2 linked regions of the Homo sapiens genome follow. The protein of the gene in region 1 purifies or fractionates together with the protein of each later gene. This does not show direct contact. Each region holds a gene or a part of one and is shown on either strand. Other genes may lie near its edges.

The links.
Region 2: the proteins of MOCS1 (region 1) and ANKRD49 purify together in Homo sapiens (affinity purification with mass spectrometry; one large-scale study listed by BioGRID and IntAct). This does not show direct contact.

Annotation. Positions count from the first base shown.
Region 1 is NC_000006.12:39,910,463-39,913,962, reverse strand, and holds part of MOCS1 (molybdenum cofactor biosynthesis protein 1), read left to right. Parts: intron 1-127; coding exon 128-189; intron 190-534; coding exon 535-646; intron 647-958; coding exon 959-1,071; intron 1,072-1,588; coding exon 1,589-1,699; intron 1,700-3,500. UniProt on the Homo sapiens protein: Isoform MOCS1A and isoform MOCS1B probably form a complex that catalyzes the conversion of 5'-GTP to cyclic pyranopterin monophosphate (cPMP).
Region 2 is NC_000011.10:94,496,984-94,500,078, forward strand, and holds the end of ANKRD49 (ankyrin repeat domain-containing protein 49), read left to right. Parts: intron 1-1,087; coding exon 1,088-1,549; 3' UTR 1,550-2,595; downstream 2,596-3,095. UniProt on the Homo sapiens protein: Induces HBG1 expression. May have a role in spermatogenesis where it promotes autophagy in response to serum starvation, via the NF-kappaB pathway.

The sequences.
Region 1 (3,500 bases):
TACTCTGGCCTGTTTTAGAAAACGTTTGCCAATCTCCAGACTAGATGGGCTCTGGTGCTTTTCTGTGGGGGTGTGGGGGAAGAGGAGAGAGGACAGAAGTTCCTGGATCCTTGTTTCTCCCTCCCAGGCTTCCACAAGGTCATGGAGGGCATCCACAAGGCCATCGAGCTGGGCTACAACCCTGTGAAGGTGAGGCCGTGCCCCTGCCGTAGATTCCCGACTTCCCTCCACACTGCCCTGGCCTTCCCCTCACCGCCCCTTGGCCCACTTGAGAGCCCTCAGCTCTGGCCAGCATGGCTGAAGTACGTGCACCCTTCCACCTCTTCTCTCCCTGCTGGTCCAGCCCTGCCGACCCTTGAGAGAAACGAGAAAATCAGTGACCCCAAGGAATCCCGTAACTTAGAGAACTGAGTGGGAGAAGCAAGGAATGGGTCCCTGAGTGGAAGGCCTCAGTGAGTGCCAGGCCCCCAAGGGTCATCTCCACAAAAGAATGCAGGGGGCACAGCCCTCATGGTCCCATTGTTCCCCGGCCAGGTGAACTGTGTGGTGATGCGAGGCCTTAACGAGGATGAACTCCTGGACTTTGCGGCCTTGACTGAGGGCCTCCCCCTGGATGTGCGCTTCATAGAGTATATGCCCTTTGATGGTCAGTGACCAGGGATGGGTTGAGGGAGGGAAGAAGGGGTTGGGCCTGCAGGTCGCATAGTGTGGCTCACCCACTGGGTATGGCTGACCTCAGGGGCAGTGAGTCTAGGATTATGATGGGCTGTTGGTGGCTTCTCGGAGCCCGCTGTGGATGTGATTCAATCCACCAGTTTTAGGCAGAGCCCCCGTCCCTCCCTTCCAAGAGGCTGGAGAACTGATTGCTATGCTGTGGCAGGGGATGGACTCAAAGACCCCGGGGCCCCTTCAACTGTGATTCAGAAGCTCCCCTTGCCTTCCCCCATCCCGAATACAGGCAACAAGTGGAACTTCAAGAAGATGGTCAGCTATAAGGAGATGCTAGACACTGTCCGGCAGCAGTGGCCAGAGCTGGAGAAGGTGCCAGAGGAGGAATCCAGCACAGCCAAGGTTAGGGAGCAGGAGGGTGTGGGGCAGGCCTGGAGGAAGGTCGTACCTCCACCCTAGGATGGAGAGCTAGCAGGGAGCTGCACTGTGGTGGGGATGCTGTGATGTGGGATGGTACCATTTAAGCAGGAAGCATCAGTGCTATCACAACCACCTCCCTGTTTCATGGATGAAGATGTGGGCTCGGCTAGGGTGGGGGGCTCAGTAACATGTCAGAGGACACACTCCAGGAAGTGGCAGAGAGGGGTGCTCATCCCGCTTCCACGCAGACTTTTCTAAACATGCTGCCCACAGGTCCCTGCCTTAGCAGCTTTTATCTAGGGCAAGCCAGGCATAGGTCAACCCATGGGTCATCCATCCTACCAGAGTCTTCTATCACCTGAGGGCCTTGGGTGGAGCTTCACGTGGGGTCCTCTGGGAGAGGGTTGAGGAGTGGAGGTTCTGATGTCATGGAGTGAGAAACTGGGCTCAGTAGCCCATCCCCTCCACTGCCCTTTTGCTCCCACTCTCCCCTGCCCAGGCCTTTAAAATCCCTGGCTTCCAAGGCCAGATCAGCTTCATCACATCCATGTCTGAGCATTTCTGTGGGACCTGCAACCGCCTGCGAATCACAGCTGATGGGAACCTCAAGGTGAGCATCCCCTCCTCCACAGGGACCCCTTGCCACCTCTGTGTTCTCATGTCTCCTCCCACCTGTGCTCCCTGATTGGAGAGGAGGCTGGCAGGGCACGGTGTCGGGGGAGGTGGTTGGTGCAATAATGTCAGGTTTGGGGGCATGATGGGAGCAGCAGGTGAGGGTGAACTCATGGCCCCTCTGGAAATGTCACCCTGATTCCTTCCTTCCTTCTGTGGGGCCCTGAAGTAGCTTCTGGTTTATTGGGAGCTCCTTTCCAGCTCTCATGGAGCTGCAGGATCAATGTGCATTTTGCCTGGCCCCCGCCATGGTTAGCCCCTTCCACCAGGCCAGGGGCTCAGCTCTGAAACCAGAAATGGATGTTACTCATATCTAACAAGCATGTCCTGTGCATTCGTCCCTGTGGGGGATGTCGGGACCCCTTCTCGTCAGGGCTATGCAGACTCACAGGCAAGACCAAACAGAGGCAATGTGTGGCAGCACGAGAGTCCTTGCCACACGCGTGGCTAGATAGCCTGTGAGAGTGCAGGGCATCAAGAGCACTACAGACCTCAGCGAGCCTTGAAGAATGGGTGGGGCAGAAGTGGGGAGGGGAGGGTGCATACATAGGGTTCATACTGGTTGGGCGGGCTAGGGCAGATTAAAGTCAGCTATGGGAAGACTACATTGTAGGGGGCTTTGGTTCAGAATGTGTTCTGTGGACAATAGTGTGCTGCGTAAGGTTCCTGAACAGGGGAGACATCCCCCATGTATGTTTTATAAGCCACAGGCTGGGTGTGATGGCAGGAAGACCAATTAGGTGGCCATTCAGTGGTTCTCCAAATATGTTAGAGTGTGAATTGAAGGGAAGGAAGACTCAGAGAGCTTGGTAATGTTCGCGGAAGGAGAGGAGGAAGGCATCAAGGTAGCTGGAAGGCCTTGGGATCTTTTACAATTGTGGGAGGGTGATGATGGTGGGTTGGGTTTAGATGCATGCAGTTTGAATCCAAAAGGAACCATCCAGCAGGTTGCTGAAAAGCTTGGGGGTTTTTCTGGGCTGGAGATACGGAATTGACTTGGACTAGAGGTGGTATCTGTATCTGTGAGGTCTTGGCAGGAAATGGAAGGTGGGATTCTGAAGAGAATGTAATGAAGAAGCTATTTATAACATATAAGATTAAGGGAACCAATAAAGGATATTGAGGTACTTGGGACCAGCAGCAGCAAAGTGCTGTTCCCACTTAGGAAGGGCAAGGGGGAGGCACTGATGTCACTGGGGCCCAGGAAGGGCTGGAGCCTTAGAAGAGAGGCCACCTCATTGGCACTTGAGCTGTGCAGAGAAGCAGCTGCTGCCAGATACATCAAAGCAGGGAGGAAGTAGGGGAGAAATGCCTGAAGATTGTTCTTTCCCTTTACCCATTGATCTCCCAGGCAGGAGCCAGCTGGGGGGCGGGAGGGGAGGGTGGTACCAGGTGAAGTCCACAGGAGGAACCTCTTTGTTGCAGAGAAGGGAACCTGGAGGCTGGTTGGGGAGCGAGGCATGAGGAATAACAGGCACGCTGAAGCAGTTAGACCTATCCTAGATTTCACTGGTATCTTCTCCAGTGGTCTCTGCCTGCAGAAGCTTCTCAGACATTCTTCTTTCTCTGTGGCCACAGTGCCTTGTGCAGAGCTGGCACAGAGTAGATGCTTCATAAGTTTTGGTGGAAGGATGGTAGGTATATTGATTTCTGGGGCTGTCTCATCCATCCCTCTTACAGAAGCTGAGAAGCATTGAGTGAAGTTTGACCTTAAGTTGTCATGCCCAGCAGCCCTCAGC
Region 2 (3,095 bases), on another chromosome or scaffold:
AGTAGGAAAAGCACTGGGTTCAAGCCAGAAGACCTGCCTTTACTGTTATGGCCATCATACCTATCTCTTGATTGTGAGGACCAAATGAGACAATGTACATGAAAGCACATATTAAGCTGCAAAGTGTCATGCTAGGTATTATTTGGGGGTTTAAGGATAATTATCTATAAAGATAGCAAGCAATCATCTATATTTTAAAATCATTTATATAAAGTCATTAGGATCATTTAGGAAAGAGAGGATGGAAACTAACATTTATTAAAAACTAACTATACCAGGTACCTTATTACATTATTTTATTTAATCATCATGTATCCCTATAAGTAATATTCTTCTCTTTTATAGAGTAAGAAATTGAGATTCAGGAATATTAATTTGCCCAGGATCATCGAAGTGGAATGAACATCAAAAGCCTATTCCCTCTGCTTGGCCACTTCCACCTCATTTTACTAAGTTTCCCCATGTCTGTGTTAGTAAACTAATAACTAAAAGGGTCTCGCATTTTAAATAGCTTTTTAACCCAAGAGCATGCCACATTTAACCAGAGGCCCATAGAACAAACTGAAAATTACAACCTAAAAGGTTGTTTCTAAGGTTGTATTGAGAAGGAATTGAGCTCTTGAATCCCTAGAATTCCTTATTAATACTTTATTCTTCTGTTAAAAGTTTTATTTTTAAAAGTTTCATACAGTGTGTATATTGGTGTGATAATCCTACAGAAAAATCAAGCAGTTATGTTTTCTTCACAGATAACACATAAAATATTAAACAGAAAGCCTATGTTATTCATTGGACTGAAGCTTTTATGCAATAAACCTTAGTTGGACCAGGAGTAAATGTATGGTTTGATATTCAGAGAATCTCATTCTTAGAAGCAACAAAGTGTAGTTAACACTAACTTGTTCATTCTTAAATCAGTAGTCCTCTCCTCCCCAAAAAGAGATCTTAAATTATTTTCATTTTAAAGTCATCTACTAACAAGTAAGTTTTTATTCAACTTAATTAAATCTAACACCACAAGACAATTTTGTTTTAGTTATTGTTTTGGTTTGAGTTGAGTTGAAAGATTTCTTTTTTTTCTTCTCAGCTTACCACAGTGCGGAGACTCCTTTCTGAAAAGGCCACTCACGTGAACACTAGGGATGAAGATGAGTATACCCCTCTTCATCGAGCAGCCTACAGTGGACACTTAGATATTGTTCAGGAGCTCATTGCACAGGGGGCCGATGTTCATGCAGTGACTGTGGATGGCTGGACGCCCCTGCACAGTGCTTGTAAGTGGAATAATACCAGAGTGGCTTCTTTCTTACTGCAGCATGATGCAGATATCAATGCCCAAACAAAAGGCCTCTTGACCCCCTTGCATCTTGCTGCTGGGAACAGAGACAGCAAGGATACCCTAGAACTCCTCCTGATGAACCGTTACGTCAAACCAGGGCTGAAAAACAACTTGGAAGAAACTGCATTTGATATTGCCAGGAGGACAAGTATCTATCACTACCTCTTTGAAATTGTGGAAGGCTGTACAAATTCTTCACCTCAGTCTTAACAATTCTAGTAATTTTCCTAAGTTTCTAAATACCAGTGCCTCCTGTGTGTGAGATGTATTCCCATAATCAAAGTTGACGTCAAACATCTTACTACAAAAATTCAGTGACATTCATTATAACATTCTTCCAAGTGAATTGCCTGACTTTGATGTCAAAATGTATTTGAAAGTAATTTGCATATATCTTTAATTATTTCTGTGGAGTTTGTGATTTTTTTATCAGAAATAATTTTAATGTGTGTATACTTAAAAACTTGACACGGGTTGTACAGAAACTGGTATTTTTGGTGCTGATACAAGAGAAATGTATTTTTAAATATCCCACATCCTGGATCTTTGTTGGGTATTTAGTATATTGACATATATTTTTATAAGGTGAGGTAACTCAGAACTTAATTTAAAAGTCTTAAATATTCTGATACAATTCAGCTGTCTTCTCTACCTTACCATAGCCAGTTGCTTTCATTTTAAACCAGAGCAAGTAACATATTAGTGACTTGAATCTTCATAAGTTAAAGTAAAAAACAGCAAAAAACCTAGATCTTTGTCTTTTAGAACACAGACCATTTTCAGGAAAGCAGTTAGCTAAGTGTTTAATTCATGAATATTGTATACTGCATCCCCTACCACAATTTACACAATCCTGTGGATAGTCCTACCTCACCCTGGTCAACCTACATGATCCTTAAGCTAATGGCGAATCACGATGACCTTGTAGACATGCACACAACTATACCTTTGTCCAACAGATCATAATATATCTGCTATCCAACTGGTTTTACCTGCCTAATCCTACTGATTTGGGCACTGCTTGTATAGTCTCTCAAGTTCACAGGAAATGTTGATTTTCTAAGGTCCTCATTTTTACAGAGTATACAGGCAAAGTGACAGGGGAAAAGGAATTAGTCTAAGAGTAAGGGGATGATTATTATATTGAGGCTAAAACCACAAAGTGGCTCAGGCTTTAAAAAAAAAACACTGTGGATAATGACAAAAAGCATAAGTAAAAATATTTGAGAAAAATAAAGTACAAGTTTTGAACAACACAAAAGGCATGAATTCATTTTTTACCTGTGTATGTCTTTCTTGGATCCAGAACATTATTCATCCAGCACGCACTTAGTTATTTAACATCTACTCACTCAGTCTCTCCAGCAGCAATTTTGCATTGTCTATCTAGCCCCCCTGTGATTGTTCCCAAAGTTTTGTCTTCTCAACACCACAACACTCCAGGGGAAGGGAACTAAACCAGTTGCTCTTTACTTCAGTTAAATTTTTAAGATGTCCACCAAGGCTTATCTCTTTCAAGCCATCCTACGTAACCCAGTCACCCTAGACTAAGTAATAATGTTATTTAATCAAAGATTAAATATTTATTTTTGCTTAGAACTTATTAGATCATCTCAGAAAAGTCAGAGATAATATATGAACTGAATCATCGTGACAACAGGATCTTGAGAGTTAGTGCTTTAGTTTATGTTGTGATCTCTTCCTAGGGAGATGCTTTGTGGCAGAGGTTGCTTTCTGTTTAATCTGGCCTAAGTTA